Linked DNA regions of Homo sapiens: region 2 is linked to region 1. A link means that fine-mapping ties the variant in region 1 to the expression of a gene that starts in the linked region. Tissue or cell type: whole blood. Region 1 holds a variant in brackets; the other region holds the start of a gene. All regions are shown on one strand. Distances are from middle to middle.

What was found. PIP is the estimated chance that this variant, and not a neighbour inherited with it, causes the effect.
Region 2: LGR4 starts here. The variant in region 1 is fine-mapped to the expression of LGR4 in whole blood (TOPMed, PIP above 0.99).

The regions. Positions count from the first base shown.
Region 1 is chr11:27,430,555-27,438,554 of GRCh38, reverse strand. The region is part of intron 1 of LGR4 (leucine rich repeat containing G protein-coupled receptor 4); the gene reads left to right. Among named protein-coding and RNA genes, the nearest start is that of LGR4-AS1, 37 kb to the left of the region's middle. The variant A/G (reference allele first, on the strand shown) is at 4,526.
Region 2 is chr11:27,468,817-27,476,925 of GRCh38, reverse strand. It overlaps LGR4 (leucine rich repeat containing G protein-coupled receptor 4), which reads left to right and starts at 4,136. Exons shown (of 18, transcript NM_018490.5): 1 at 4,136-4,808. The coding sequence starts at 4,624. It overlaps LGR4-AS1 (LGR4 antisense RNA 1), which reads right to left and starts at 5,195. Exons shown (of 4, transcript NR_131170.1): 1 at 5,094-5,195; 2 at 3,969-4,148; 3 at 3,730-3,758. RefSeq lists silencers at 4,363-4,412, 4,543-4,712, 4,963-5,022.

The DNA.
Region 1 (8,000 bases):
AACCAAATATGTGGGAACTCCATGGCTTAGTAAGTTGACACATAAAATTAACCATCATAGGGTCTGTCTTAGGCATTGTAGGAGGCTTAACACCATCCCTGGCCCCTACTCACTAGATACCAGTAACCTCCCAGCTTCTGCCTGCCAAGTGGTGGCAACCAAAAATATCCTCAGACATTGCCAACTGTCTCCAATGCCAGATCACCCCTGGTTGAGAACTATTGCTATACATTTTTCAGAAGAGTATAAATGTCTTAGGTAAGGAAAATAGATGTTCATTCTAGACTTGCATTTGTTTTGCCATCTCTTGCAATTTTTAGATAATGATGTTTTTATGTAATACATACTAGTTATCAGTTTGTATTGGGAGAAATGTGGAAAATGCACAGACCAAGATTTGGGTCTTGATTCTGGTTGTGTGGCTTTGAATAAAGAAATGGCCTTTGATTTACTCATCAGTACAAGTTCCAAAGGTGGGGGTGAGAATGACTTGAACTAGGTCATCTCTATGGTTTCTATGTCTTTTTTTTCCTGGGGCGGGTGGAGAGTCTTGCTGTGTTGCTCAGGCTGGAGTGCACTGGAGCGATCATAGCTCACTGCAATCTTAACCTCGCAAGCTCAAGTTGTCCTTCCATCTCAGCCACCTCACCCCTGTCCTGAGTATCTGGGACTACAGGGCACGCCACCCCTCCTGGCTGTATTTTTTAATCTTTTTTGTAGAGACAGAATCTCACTATGTTACCCAGGCTGATCTCAGACTCCTGGGCTCAGGAGGTCCTCCTGCCTGTACCTCCCAAAGTGCTGGAATTATAAGCTTGAGCCATTGTGCCTAGCTTTATGATTTCTTTTAGCATAAACACACACACACACACACACACACACACACACACACACTAGTCCTTTAAAAGAGATTCAAGTAAAAATCCATAAAGACTTTAAAAATAGGACCACCTTCTTTTCATGCCTAGCATTACAAGGATTGGAAGGACGGATCTAGTCCCTGTTCTTGCAGGAAATACCTGACCAGGTGACATGCAATAAAAATAGTCACTCCTTCTCAATTTTAACTCACTATTTATTTATAAAGCATTTGATAAAAAATGCATTTTATGGAGGTACGTTGGTTTTAATGATTGCTTCTAGGTAGCACTTTGAAACTTTTCTCAACACTAGAAAATAGTAGCATGTCTTTGGTCTGTTCAATACACATGGATAATTATAATTTCTTTTCAAAACAGCAATTTATAAAAAAAAAAATTGGCCAAAACAGTAGGGTTCCTTGGCTATTTTTAGGGAAGAAATTACTAAGATGCAAAATAAGTTTTAAAATATAAACAAGTGTGTGTATATTTGGACTAACTTACATGTTTACATTGGTTGTCCTGAGTCAGCCACATAAGTGGCAGTTTGCATTCTGGGCCAAGCTTTTTAGCCTGCTGGCCCCCAAATTTAAGACCCATCCCAACTTTTTTGGCTCATGTTTCTATCTAAATATTGGGTGGAAACAGCAGAAGAACCAAAGTAAAATGGAAGGGGGGATTTTTTGAAATTAAAACTAGTTAGTAACCAAACAGACAGATATATGCCAGATTTTTTAGTGCCATTCCCACCCCCTCAAATCCCTCCATCTCCCTTCAACACCCCCTCCTATCCCCGCAATGCAGTGCAAAGACTGGTATAGCTAAGGGCCTATCTATCAAACAGATTCAAGATTTGCAAGCGTAAGACATGTAGGGTTAGAGTTACCTGCAGCTGTGTGATAGGTACGTAATAACATATGAACAAACGATATTAACACCTGTGGTGAGTGAGTGGTCCAATAGCTATTTTTATTGCCATGTTGTAAACTATAATGACAAAAATTGTAGGGCTTATAGAAAATATCTTTACTGCTATCATGATTTATTTTCCTGGGATTTTGTTCTTTTTCCTCTCCATATACATGATAAAAAAATATGGTGAAAACACTATTACATATATATTGTTAGTTATATAAGTGTTGTCTTCACTTTTCACCAAGCCAAGTGAAACATCCATCCTTATAATTTATCCATCCAGGATAAATTTCCTGGATAAATAAGTAGTTTTAGAATATTTCTTAAAATCATTCATTAGTGCCTGACAGTTTCTTTCCTTCCTTCCTCCCCTCCCCTCCCCTCCCCTCCCATCCTCTCTCTCTCTCTTTCTTTCTTTCTTTCTTTCTTTCTCTCTCTCTCTCTGTCTTTTATTTCTTTCTTTCTTTGCATTATGGTGTAGTGATTCGGGAGACAGGATTTTGAAGATTGTCTGGGTATTCAGATCCTGGCTTGACATCATTTCGAGGTGACTTTAAGAAGTTCCATTTGGCCAGGAGCAGTGGCTCACACCTGTAATCCCAGCACTTTGGGAGGCCAAGGTGGGTGGATCACGAGGTCAGGAGATCGAGACCATCCTGGCTAACACGGTGAAACCCCATCTCTACTAAAAATACAAAAAATTAGCCGGGCGTGGTAGTGGGCGCCTGTACTCCCAGCAACTCAGGAGGCTGAGGCAGGAGAATGGCAAAAACCCAGGAGGCGGAGCTTGCAGTGAGCCCCAGATCGCGCCACTGCACTCCAGCCTGGGTGACAGAGCGAGACTCCGTCTCAAAAAAAAAAAAAGAAGTTCCATTTCCAGTTCTGTAAAATGAGAATAGCGATAGAACCTACCTCTTAGGATTATTGTGAGGTTAAGATATGTGAACCATTTGCCTCCAGCCTGGCACTAGATGCATTCAAAGTAGTTGATGAGCTGGGCACAGTTGCTTATACCTGTAATCACAGCACTTTGGGAGGCTGAGGTGGGAGGATCACTTGAGGTCAGGAGTTCAAGACCAGCCTGGCTAACATGATGAAACCCCATCTCTACTAAAAATACAAAAATTAGCTGGGTGTGGTGGCAGGCATCTGTAATCCCAGCTACTTGGGAGGCTGAGGCAGGAGAATAGCTTGAACCCAGGAGGCGGAGGTTGCAGTGAACCGAGATTGCACCACTGCACTCCAGCCTGGGCAACAGAGTGAGACTTCATCTCAAAAAAAAAAAAAGTAGCTGATGAACAGAACAGAAGAGGCACTTGGTCAAATAAGTGTTATCTAGAAAGGATAATACCATCATTAGAATTTGATCATTTAAGAGACTCTGTCTAGTAGCATTGTTATCTCTGAGTTTTTGTTGTTGTTGTTGTTGTTTGTTTGTTTGTTTTTTGAGACAGAGTCTCACTCTGTTGCCCAGGCTGGAGTATAGTGGTGTAATCTCAGCTCACTGCAGCCTCTGCTTCCTGGGTTCAAGCTATTCTCCTTCCTCAGCCTCCCAAGCAACTGGGATTACAGGCGTGCGTCACCATGCCCAGCTAATTTGTATTTTTAGTAGACATGGGTTTTCACCATATTGGCCAGGCTGGTCTCGAACGCCTGATCTCAAGTGATCTCCCGACTTGGCCTCCCAAAGTGCTAGGATTACAGCCATGAGCCTCTGCACCTGGCCAAGTTTTATCTATAAGTAGCTCGTCAGGAAGGTCATCTGGTGTAGTGTTGTGGGTTTCCAGCTGCCTGTTTGACACGTTGCATGGTGAAATATGAAAACTAGGGGTATTGTCATGATTTTTAAGTGACTCTATTATTAGTCACTTTAAGGGGCCATCTTTTATTGTAAGATCATACCGTTTGGCTTTTGGGGGAGAATATTAAATTTAATGTTCCTCCCCTCTCCCCTCTTTAGATTGATGGAGTTGTTTTATAAATGTGCTTATAAGTCAAAATAAAAAAGTTGACAACCTTGAATTGGTCTCTCCAGTTGTGTGGTATTTCAGGGGCTATGAATAGGCATTGTATTGATTTAAGGTACCAGAATTCTAGGAGTCACATTCATGGTAGGAAGCTCTTCTCTAGTGTCCTTGACAGATTGTCTTTAGCCACTGCGTTTAGTATCTCTGGCAAGGCAGGGGCTTCTCTTACTGAACAGCTCAAGACATTAACAGTAATCTTTTTTGTTATTTTTTGTGATACAGTTAGCTTCCCAGTTCAGTGTAGTGGACAGACCACAGGCCTCTACTTCACCAAAAATTATTTTACTTTGGGTATGTAAGGCCAGAGTTGTGAATATTAAAAGGGGAAATGAGATGTAAACACTAAGCTATATTAAACATTTTGGAATTATTAGTTCCTTTCTTCCTTCCTTTCCCATTGAAAGCATCTATTGATTGTACTTAATTCATGCATCTAGAGCAATGGAGATATTCTTCTCTTATTTACATGAGAGCTCTTCAGGTTTCTTCCTCAATCTCATCTTCTCCAGAACAAATAGCCTCTCTTTTCAGTGGCTGCCTCGTCAGGTTCCAGATCCCTCACTGTCCTGGCCTTCAGTTTTGGAGGCTGAATATGTGAAGTTTCTATGTTTGGTTCATGAATTCTGCATGGGCACCTAGTATATGTAGGATAGTAATAAAAATGCCTTAAGTTCCCAGAAGGCTCTGTGGTTTTAATGGTGCTTTCCAATCTTCCCAGCCCTG[A/G]GGTAGGGGAGATATTTTCCCATTTGACTGTGAGGAACCTGAGAGCCTTTCTAAGAACAAACAGACATCATTTAATTTTAGAGTTGGGAAGGCTTTGCATGCCATGCCGACCTCACATCACAGAAGAGAAACTAGAAGCTCAGAAGAGTTAAGGGACTTGCTTCAGGTCACATGGCCAAAGTTTGGCTGTGGCCCATGGGAATTGGACTCCATTTTTAAGTCCCTTTTTAACCCAGAAGTTGAACCACCACACTGTGCTGCGTCTGTGTTGTGCAAAGGATGAGAGAAGCATAAAGCAAATAACGGGCTCCTTAGTGCAAAGAACTTGCACAGGAATAGAATGAATGATTTGTTTTGCCTTTCTGTTTAGTTCATTTAAAAAATTCCAGCCGCTTACATGATAATAGGGTATAAACTATAGGAGAAACATTCACAGGGAGGATAGTTTAGAGCACACTCTGAAGAACATTAGGTTGTGGGAGAAAAGAATAGAAGAGTGGGCCGGGCATGGTGGCTCACACCTGTAATCCCAGCACTTTGGGAGGCTGAGGTGGGCAGATTACAAGGTCAGGAGATGGAGACCATCCTGGCTAACACGGTGAAATCCCATCTCTACTAAAAAAAAAAAAAAAGAAATAAAAATAAATTAGCCGGGCGTGCATGGTGGCAGGCGCCTGTGGTCCCAACTACTGGGGAGTCTGAGGCAGGAGAATGGCGAGAACCCGGGAGGCGGAGCTTGTAGTGAGCCGAGATGGCGCCACTGCACTCCAGCCTGGATGACAGAGCGAGACTCCGTCTCAAAAAAATAAAAAAAGAAAGAATAGACGAGTGTTCCCTGTGACTGATCTAGGGTAGTGTTCCTTAACATTCCTTTTCTGATGTGTCAGTTTTTTGTTTTAGTTTTTAATTTCCAATCCAATATGGTTCGTGTTTTTATAAAATATAAACATTAATTTTCAGGAAAATAAAATGGAGCAAAGAAAGCCTACATAATACAAACCCAAAGTTCTTATTATTGATTCAAAATCATAAAATTTGTCATGTTGCCATGATGTGAACTTTCAGTAGCTCTGCTTGTCTCATTGTGGAATGTTAACAGTTTACAGACTACTCAGGTTTTGAGTAGCAATGGTGTAGTGGGAAAAAAAGTGGGAAGAAACCAGCTGTTGTGGTGGGGAGGATATACGGGTAAGGAGATCTAAGGGAAGAGGACCTAGCCAGAGCGGAAGAATATAGGTGAAGCATGCAAAGAAAAAGATTAAGGTAGTATAACTGATGGAGAATCTCAATTTCTTCCAGTGGGTGGAGAGGAGTTTAAATTTGCCTCCAGAAGCAATGGGGGGTCCTCTGTAAGATCTTAGGCTTGTCAGCGCTTTGCTTTAGACACTCTCGGATGTCCTAGTAATTCTAAAATATTTGCTGCTGTCTGTAAGTTCTAGGTATATCCAGAACTTCTTCGTTATATGTCAATTGTTCTTCCATGATTTCTTTTCTCTTTATTTTCCTCTGTTATTTGAAGGGCAGAAATAGGCTGCTTTTTTCCATGTCCACCTCTTTGAATTTTGCCATTGGGTCTTCTCTGGGACAAACACTTTATATGAAGTAGGTGAGCCAGTCTCCTGTACTCCTTATCCTGTGGCTTGACCACCTCTGGGCAATTTCATTCAATTGCAGACATCTTCCAGGAAATGTCTAATTTGTTAAACAAATACTTGTTTTATTTCTGAGCATTTTGAAAGCAAGGTCAAAGATGGTGGCTGGGGAGAGAAGGTGTTCAAGTGGAAAAGGCTGCTAGCGTACAGTAGGAAACTGTGGGAAGGAGGATTTAGGGAATTGTAAAGACTAGCCCATCTTAAGTAGGGTTAGTGCTCCTGGTATGTGGAATGCCTTTTTATTCCTTGCCTAGGAGTGAGTGGCAATGCTCTGCTATGTAGATCAGTATTTCAGTCCTGAACCACCAGGGCCAAGAATTTGCCATCCTGCTGGGGATAATAACCGGCAGGATGTGACATATTACAATCAATGTGCATAGAGTACCTTCCTTATGTCAGCATGATCCAAACACTTTACATGATGAATTACTTTATTCTCACAGCAACCTTGTGAGGTGGATGCCATGATTCATTATTTATAGATGAGGAAGCTAAACACAGAATTTAATCCATCTGTGGAAGATCACGCAGCTAATACATGGTAGAACTTGGATTTGAACTCAGGCAGCCTTGCTGAAAGTCATGTTCTACTGCCTGAGACTGAAATAATATTATATGGATGGAGTGCTCTTGAAGATTGGTCATCTTACACGGATTAGTAAGTTCTTTGGATGGACAATCCTTTTGTCCTGAGTGCCAAGAAATATGGAAGAAAAAGATAGTGACCCAAGAGTCATGGAAGAAGAAAAACAGAAGGAAGAGCAAACCCAGGCTAGGCAGTGTCTTTGGGGGACGATGAAAAACAGCAGACCATTTAAACGTCCATGGTGTTTACATAGCTTTAGTTTAGTAGCACAAATATTGGTTATGGAATAGGATATCTCCTCCCCGTGAATGTTTATAGTATGTTAGGTGTTGGGCTAGGGGTTAGAAAATTGATAGTGAACAAGGTAGACTAGCTCTTTGTCCTCATAAATGTTCTTTTCTAGTGGGGAAGACCATGAACGCATAAGGGGCCATTGTAATATACTGCAGTGGTTCTCACATGTGAATGTGCATCAAAATCACATGGAAAGTTTGTTAATACCCCTAGAGTGTTTGATTAGTTGGTCTGGAGTAGGGCACAAGAAAGTGCCTTTCTATCAAATTCTCATTCCCAGGTGACATTGGACCACTTTCTGAGAACCCCTCGCTCAGTGGTTAATGCTGAAGAAAGTTTGTTTTCTAATAAAGTAAAAGGAAAGAAGATAAATCCAATGATAACTAGACAGAGGAAATAAACTGGTTGGTAATATAGAGTTTACTGGGGGCCATTTTAGGGGGGCTAAGAAGAGACTGTCTGAAGGGGTGACATTTGAGAGAAAACCAGGAGGTAAGAAGGAGGTGCTATGGGAAGAGCTAGGGAAGAATAGACCAGGCAGAGAACAAGTGCAAAGGTGGAAGGAGGAGAGGTTTGCGTGCTTGTGGGGGTTGGGGGAGCTGGGAGTGGGGTGGGGATGATTTGAGATGATGTTGGAGAGGATGCAGGAGCAAGTTCAGGTAGGGCCTTGATATAGAACAAAGAGACTGCTAAGCACTGGATTGGCATGAATTGTCTTCTTGTTTTAAAAAGATTGCTTTGACTGCCATGTGTAGGTCAAATTCAGAGGGGCAAGCATGGAAAGAGGGAGACCAAACAGAAGGCTACTGTCGTGGTCCCGGGAGAGATGGTGATGGCTTGGATTGAGGCAAGGGGTCGAGGGGTGGAGAAACAAGATAGAAGTGAGCTGGAGGAATGCACTGTTTTTGTTTCTACTGGCTTATCACCGCCTGGGGATGCTCAT
Region 2 (8,109 bases), 38 kb before region 1:
GGAGTTCAAGACCAGCCTGGCCAACACAGTGAAACCCCTTGTCTACTAAAAATACAAAAATTAGCTGGGTGTGGTGGTGCATGCCTGTAGTCCCAGCTACTTGAGAGGCTGAGGCAGGAGAATCGCTTGAACCCAGGAGGTGGAGGCTGCAGTGAGCTGAGATCACACCACTACACTCCATCCTGGGCCGCAGAGAGAGACTCCATCTCAAAAACAAAACAAAACAAAACACCATTTAAAAAAACAAACAAACAAAAAACGGTGGAAGAGTGAAAAGATAAATTTGCTTTCTGCTTGAGCTGGGACATCTGTCTTCTCTTCCCCTCAGACTTCACTGCTCCTGGTTCTCAGGCCTTCAGACTTCGACCAAAACATCATTGACTCCCCTGGGTCTCAGGCCTTCAAGTTTGGACTAAAACAAATCCACTAGCTTTCCTGGGCCTTCAGCATGTAGATGGAAGATTGTCACTTAGTCTCCATAATTGTATAAGTCAGTGCCTCACAATAAATCTCTTTCTGTATTTCTATATATATCCTATTGGTTCTGTTCTCTGGAGAACCCTAACACACTGGGCATTTCATTAAGTGGAATATTATATAGTAATAAAAATGAAGTTACAAGCCTCATAGTTCGTGAATGTCGATTACACTCACAGGTTGAGTGAAAAAGCAGGTTGCAGAACAGTACGCAATGATGTTGATTTATATATGAAAAACAATGCTGTTTATTGTTTAGGGATACATGCATACGAAAAGCATGAAAATATGCATGGGAATTAACTACAAAGTTTAGGAAACTGCTTACTTCTCAGGGAGAGGAAGAAAAGGAATATGATTGGGGAGTGGTACAAAGGGAGCTTCAACTACATTCGTAATATTTCTTAAGCTGATTGCTGTTAACTCTTTTTCTAAGTCGAAATAGTTCATAAAAAGTGAAATTCTACATGTTTGAGGACTTTTATCCAGTCAATCATTACAGCACTCAGAGCCCCCACTGTATCTGAGCTGTTGTTGTAACAGGGCACCTTGAACCGTTCACCCAACAGGTAGGGCCTCTGCATATACTTGTTCAGGTTCTATGTTTACAAGAGTTCTTGGGTAAAGGGGTGGTAGAACCGAAGTCCAGCTTATCCATCAGTCAACAAGTCCTGTGTGCTCTGCACAAAGACACCAAGGCAAGTATCACTACGATAGGGTACTTTCTTCATGGCCCATAAGCTCCATGCCACATATGCAGAGGGGTTGCAGCCCAGTTCTATTTTTTATCTAGCCTGTGGATGCCGCAAATTTACTTACACACAACCAATGAAAACTTTAAGAGGAACCGATCTGTAGACAGAGACCCTATTATTTTTTGCTTGCCGTCAATTTTTATTTGGTTTATCTCAGTATCTTTCCAGTCCTTATGATTTATTTAAGAGCTGATCATTTTTCTCTAGTTATCTGAGATATTACCTTAATCACTGGTTTTTTGTTTTTTGTCTTTATACTTTCTTGGGACATCTTATCCAAGAGATGGAGACTAATTGACCAATGTATCTCTAATGCAAAGCATACAAAATGTACCAAATAAGAAATACAAACACTTCAATATATCTTATCTTTTCTGTTCCCTACCCAAGTCTTTTGTTCCTGATCTTTTATCTTCTTGGCTAAGCTGCAAATTTGAATCTTCCTTTCTTACATTTGTCATCTAATAGACAATAGGAATTTATTTTTTAGTAAAATCTGCATCTCCCCTTTTTTCAAAATATAAATCTCTCCTTTCACCTAAGTTTTCAGCCATAAGATTTTATTATTTGAAGACAAAGAATAAAGTTCTCCAAGTGTGGTTCATGAATCACCTGTGTCACTTTCACTTGCTGTGCAACAAAATGCTGGTTTCTGGGCCCCACTTAGGCCTACTAAATCATTCTGCATTTTTAATCAAGATTTGCATATAAGCCGGACTCCGTGGCTCATGACTGTAATCCCAGCACTTTGGGAGGCCAAGGCAGGTGGATCACTTGAGGTGAGGAGTTTGAGGCCAGCCTGGCCAACATGAGAAACCCCATCTCTACTAAAAAAAAAAAAAAAAAAAAAAAAAAAAAAGTAGCTAAACATGGTGGTGGGCACCTGTAATACCAGCTACTGGGGAGGCTGAGGCAGGAGAATCACTTGAACCCGGGAGGTGGAGGTTGCAGTGAGCCAAGATCACGCCACTGGACACAGTGAGTGAGAGTCCGTTTCAAAAAAAAAAAAAAAAAAGAAGAGATCTTAAAGAAACGATTACAGAAACTAACTTTACAATTTCTTCCTTATTTGTTCATGACAGTTGCTAGAAAATAATGGAAATGATTTAGACGATGAAAGCCTATTTAGGGAAGGCTCTAAGAGTACCAGATTAGGAGCCAGGAGCCCAGGAGCTGTTCCGTGATGATGTTGGGCAGAACACACTCTCTCTCGAGCCTCAGATTTCTTATCTATAAAACCAGAGTTTTCTGGGGGTCTTTAAGTTGTCTTTCAGCCCTGCAGTGAGAGGAGATATGTCATTCCTAAAACTTGAAATGAAGGCATATGTTTATTTATTAACTCTCTAGCTTCTAGACAGATTTACTGTATGTGACTTATGTGCCCAACCTGACATTATCTTTTAGATAAACTCCCAAATACAAAGATGATAAAATTTTTTCATTTTAAACTTATAGGTCTGCATCAACCTGTTTCCATTGTCCTAAGTTTTATTTACATACGATGGCTAGTCAACTTTATATGATAATTATCTTTAAATCCTGCTTTTTTTTTTTTTTTTTTTTTTTTTTTTTGAGACAGAGTTTTGCTCTTGTTGCCCAGGCTGGAATGCAATGGCGCGATCTCCAGCTCACCGCAACCTCCGCCTCCCGGGCTCAAGCAATTCGCCTGCCTCAGCCTCCCGAGTAGCTGGGATTACAGGCATCTGCCACCACACCCGGCTAATTTTGTATTTTTAGTAGAGACGGGGTTTCTTCATGTTGGTCAGGGTGGTCTAGAACTCCCAACCTCAGGTGATCCGCCCGCCGCAGCCTCCCAAAGTGTTGGGATTACAGGCGTGAGCCACCGCGCCCGGCCGAATCCTGCTTGTTTTAATGTATTCATTAAAAATGTCTCCATTATAGAGTAAAACGACTCAACGCCATGGCAGAGAGCAAGAAACGAAGTACCCTTAAAGCCGTAGTTGGTACAGGTAATGATTCCGTGGGGTCTATTAGGCCACAGGGACTCAAAATCCAGAAGAGGAGGGAATGCTGATAATTACCTAACACCAACGTTGCTGCTGGCTTCTCAGCCGTAGTCACCTCCCACTCAGATGTTTTGGAAATTGTCCAGTGTTCAGAAACATCACTTTCTCTGACCTTTTACAAAATTCCTGTGTTTCAGGATTTTAAAGTGCGTGAGAAAGGAGTCTAATTTGCAGTCACCAAAAACACCAAATACAGAGAGAGGACTGGGGAGAATGAATTGCTAAGACTTAGCTACCAAATGTGTATCAAGATAGGTGTAAAGATCCCAGGTGAAGTGAGGCACTGGAGAGGGTACACTTTTAACTTAGTGTATAGCTAAAACCCAAAGATGTGTGTCAGATCGAGGGAAACTTTTTTCCTCCTCTTCAAAATCTTTTTTCCGTTTGCAGAGCTCCAGACGTCCTCGCCCTTTGGAACAGCGGAGAGTCATTTAAAACTTAACTGAACGCTGGAGGGAAGTTCTACTTACCAGGTCATCCAATTTAGGAGATCCAATTTCTGCGGAGGGAACAAAAAGACGGGTGGGGGAGGGAAAAACTAGACCCCTTGTCCTACTATCCTTCTACCTTCAATCCACAACCTGCCAGACAAATCCAGCCAAGTCAAGATTTTGCCTTGAACCACCACCACCACCACCACCACCACCGCCGCCACCACCACCACCACCACCGCCGCCACCACCACAACCACCACCACCTTGTCACTCACGCCCGAGAAACACGCCCCTCTGGTCCTCCTCTTGGCCAATGGCGGCTCTCCTCTCTGCATAGTAATGAGCTCGAGACCTCCCCGGGCCAATGGCGCTCCGGGAGAAGGGATACTTTTGCATGTACCTAAGTGATTTGCATAAGCCAGCGGCCGGGGGTTTGGGAACCAGAGCGTGCAACCCTAGAAGGGAAAAGGACGGGAAGAGATTGAGCCGCGGCTGGGAGACAGCGAGCCAGAGTCTGGGTGTTTGTGCGAGAGCCACGGCGGGGGCTGGGGCGAGTGGCCGGCATGGCTGAAGGCTGCGCTCTGCAACCTTGAAGAGCCGCTGCATTGAGAGGCCAGGGACAGGGAGACCGGTGCGATGGCAGAGCGCGGCCCCCGCCGCTGCGCCGGGCCGGCCCGGCTGGCGTGAGCCGCCGGAGGAGCGGGGCTGCCTCTGCGCGTCCATGGAGCAGCGGGAAGGGCGAAACTCCGGAGCGCCGCGTCCCTGCGCCGCTGCGGCGGACTGCTGAAGGGGCCGAGCCCGCGCGGACCGCCGAGGAAGAGACCCCCGCTCCAGCCCGCAGGCCGGCTGCCCGGGGGCGGCGGGGGACATCGGAGGGCAGCGGAGCGAGCAGCGCCGCGGGAGAGGCCGGCGCGGGAGGCGGCCGCAGCAATGCCGGGCCCGCTAGGGCTGCTCTGCTTCCTCGCCCTGGGGCTGCTCGGCTCGGCCGGGCCCAGCGGCGCGGCGCCGCCTCTCTGCGCGGCGCCCTGCAGCTGCGACGGCGACCGTCGGGTGGACTGCTCCGGGAAGGGGCTGACGGCCGTGCCCGAGGGGCTCAGCGCCTTCACCCAAGCGCTGTGAGTGCGGGCGGCGGGGACGCGAGGGGGGGGGAGGAAACGGGGCCCAGCGGGGGGCGCCGCGGGGCGGAGCCAGGGGTCAGTCCCACCCCACCCCGCCCCGCCGCCGCCCGGGCCTGGGGAGGGGGTCCGCCGGTCACCTGCGTGCGGGCTGCCTGGCACCCACTCCTGTGCCACGGGCTTTCCGCACTTTGCTAGTCCGGGTTCGAGCCAGCAGTAGCTTTCGTTCCCAGACTTTTTGGGCACAAGCACCCTCCCACCCCACCGCGCACACCCCCAACTCACAAGTGCATCTGGGGCCAAGAAGGAGGAAGTAATCTAAAAACGCTTGCCCCTGGCAGCCTGTCCACGCGACCTTCCCTTCTCATGAGGGCCCTCGCTCAGCGGGCAGGAGTTCCGCTACTGGCGGGGCTGAGGGCGCCGAGAACTTGGCCTCAGTCTGCATACCGAGGCATGTCTCGTGGGGAAGCACCTGGAGCCTCCTGGGTTCCAGCATGTGGGGAGAAGAAACACCTGTACCTCAGTCAGGGCGAATCTCCTTCCAATTTGGCCCCATCCAGGTAGTGCGTCCCGGCACCTACCTCGGCCCAGTTCCACTCGGGACTACCCCACTAACGCCCAGGCTTCTGCAGCACGCAGGGGAGTCCGAGAAAACAAGGGAGAATTACAGGGTTCTGTTGGTGGACATGCTCTTACCCAACAAGGCCTTTTAAAGAAGGAATGCTGACCTGAGGTGCAGGATGTTGGAAGAGAAGCAAGTTCCGGAGCATATGCTCAGCCCAGGCTGCAAGGTAGCAGCAGGTTTCTAATGCACCTTCACGCAGCCAGCAGATCTTTTCTTTTGAGCTGCCTGAGATCGAGAGACACACTGAAATGTTTCAGACTTACAAAATCGCCCTGCCAAAACGGACTTGAGAGCTTTAGACGTTCCCTTGAGAAAAGAAGAGGAATCTGAACTAGGTTGTGGAGGTGGTGGCAAAGGCCACGGATAGAGGAGGAACAGGGTAGGGTTTTTGTGTTCTTATTGCTTCTTGCGTTGCGTGGCCAGCTGAATGCTTAAATCAGGAGCAGTCGAAGAAACGTGTGAGAGAGGAAGGGATCCTGAGGGGCCCTAGGGTAGAGGGAATTTCCTTTTACCTGTAGTGGAAGGGACCTCTTAGAAATAGACAGTTTTAAAGGACCCTGTGAAGAAATCTTTATGCAGGCAGGAGCATTGCTGTATTTCCAGGTGGGTGGTGGCAAAGGTGTTCCGCTTGCCCTCTCAGGATGGACTTTTAGTGAGCATCGAGGCCTGTTGTCTTGGAACCTGTTTCATTCTTCTACCTTCAGCCTTCCCCTCCCCATTTGTTATTTTTCCTGTCTCAGGTTAGTTTTAGTTATGTATTTGAGGTTTTTTTTTTTTTTCAGTATAGTGAAGTTTAACTTGTCATTAAAAAAAAAAGTTAACTTTGCAGTGAAGAGCATTTTGTTCATAAAGTTACATTAAGTGGGAAAGTTTGAGCAGGAATTGATTGAATCAAGAGAAAGAAGACCTGTGGAGAGGAAATGGGACTAATTTTTCCCCAAGTTCTCTAGAAACGTTTAGGGAATTCGTGCAGAAAGAAATGCAGAAAGAAAGGTCCCTTTACCTGAACCTCTTGCAAGGCTCTGCATAGAATAGAAAAGCACAATTTTACTATTTTGACCAGTAGTAAAGACCTTGTTTAGCAGATTCCTCACATTTTAGTGAGTAGACTTGTCCTATAAGGAAACGGGCTGTTTTACATTAGTATCTAAAACCACAGAGAAATAATCACACTTTTATGAGAGCATACTCCTCTCTCCAAAGCATCTTCTGGTAGAACTCACTGAAGGTGGTGAAATGCTGTATCTTCAACTTTGGGCCTTAGAATAAGTTAGTGTTCATGGCTTAGGAAACAGAAAAATAATTGGTACCAGTCTCAATTAGAGTGCCTAAACTAGCATTATCTTAGCACTTTCTGAGCTTTGGTGGTGTGCAAATGTGTTTTATTTTCTTAGATTTGTGACCTGTAGGTAGAGTGATCGTACATTCTGGTGACTCCTTATTTCTCCTTAGTACTCATTTCACCCTCAAAAATATATATAACCACCCTCTCTAAAAGGGTTTTCAAGGACAGCATATTTGCATTTTACTCATGGGGAAACTAGCTCATTCAGTGATTCTCAAAAGCAATGTATGAAGCAAGGCCAGTGCTGCAGGTTTGCACACTCCAGTCGATCATATATGGGACATGTTGCGATCACCTAGGGTCTTTTTCCAAGTACTTCCAGTCTGCTCTCCCATCGCAGCTTTACTGAGATACAGTTACACATCAGGAGACTAGTTCCGTGGTCTCTAAGCGTTTGTTCACCTATTCTTAATTGCTGGAGCATGTGAACCAAAAACCTCTGTAGTTATACAGAAAATTACAATCATGAAAGTAGAAGTTAAAAAGATGAAACTATAATTACTAATCAGAGTTCTTCATTTTCTTCTCATTGCTCAATGGCTTGTCCTGGAGTAGTGCTTTCACCTTCCCTGGGGACAGGGGTGGGGGGTGCATTTCACTTTAAAGATCCTGGGACTGACAGGGCAGTGATTTTATTTTACTCAACTTGGGATCCCCAGAGCCCGGTACATAGGAGGCACTTAAAAATGCTGGAGTGAATAAATAAGGATGCAAGGCCACACCGAGGAGCAGAACCGTGGCATGGAATTCAGACACCATTCCCACAGGGGATTTTCAGATTCATTCTCAGCACTTAGCCTTTTGTCCAGATTTGAGAAGGTCCCAGAGAGAGAATACCTGCTTCTTCTCCTTGAGGCTGGTTGAAACTTGTTCAGTCTAACAGTGTCTATTTCCTGGTGAAAGCCGCTTTACCGGAGTCTGGGGACAGCGTCAGATGTGATCCTCAGTACTGTGAATGGGATTCCTGTATTCACACCATTTGCTGCACCTGTAGCAACTATTTATGTTTTTGAACAACAGTATTCAATCTTGTGTCACAATGCACTGGCCTGTCACAATTCACCCCGAGGAGTGTTCAAGGCAGTAATCTTACTAATATTAAAATTCCGAAGTTTAATCAGAAGGATTCAAGGTTATTACTGTATTTGTGCTAATAACTCAATCACCTACATTCCAAGATTGGGAGAAGAGATGAAGTCATGGGGAGGGGAATGTGTATGTGAGTCCTCTGGTTTGTGTGTTATTGCTACGGTGTTTGAGAAACGTAGACCTCGAGCACAAATTTGCATGTCCTAGGTTATGTTTGGCACATAGTTTTAAGATTAGCAAGG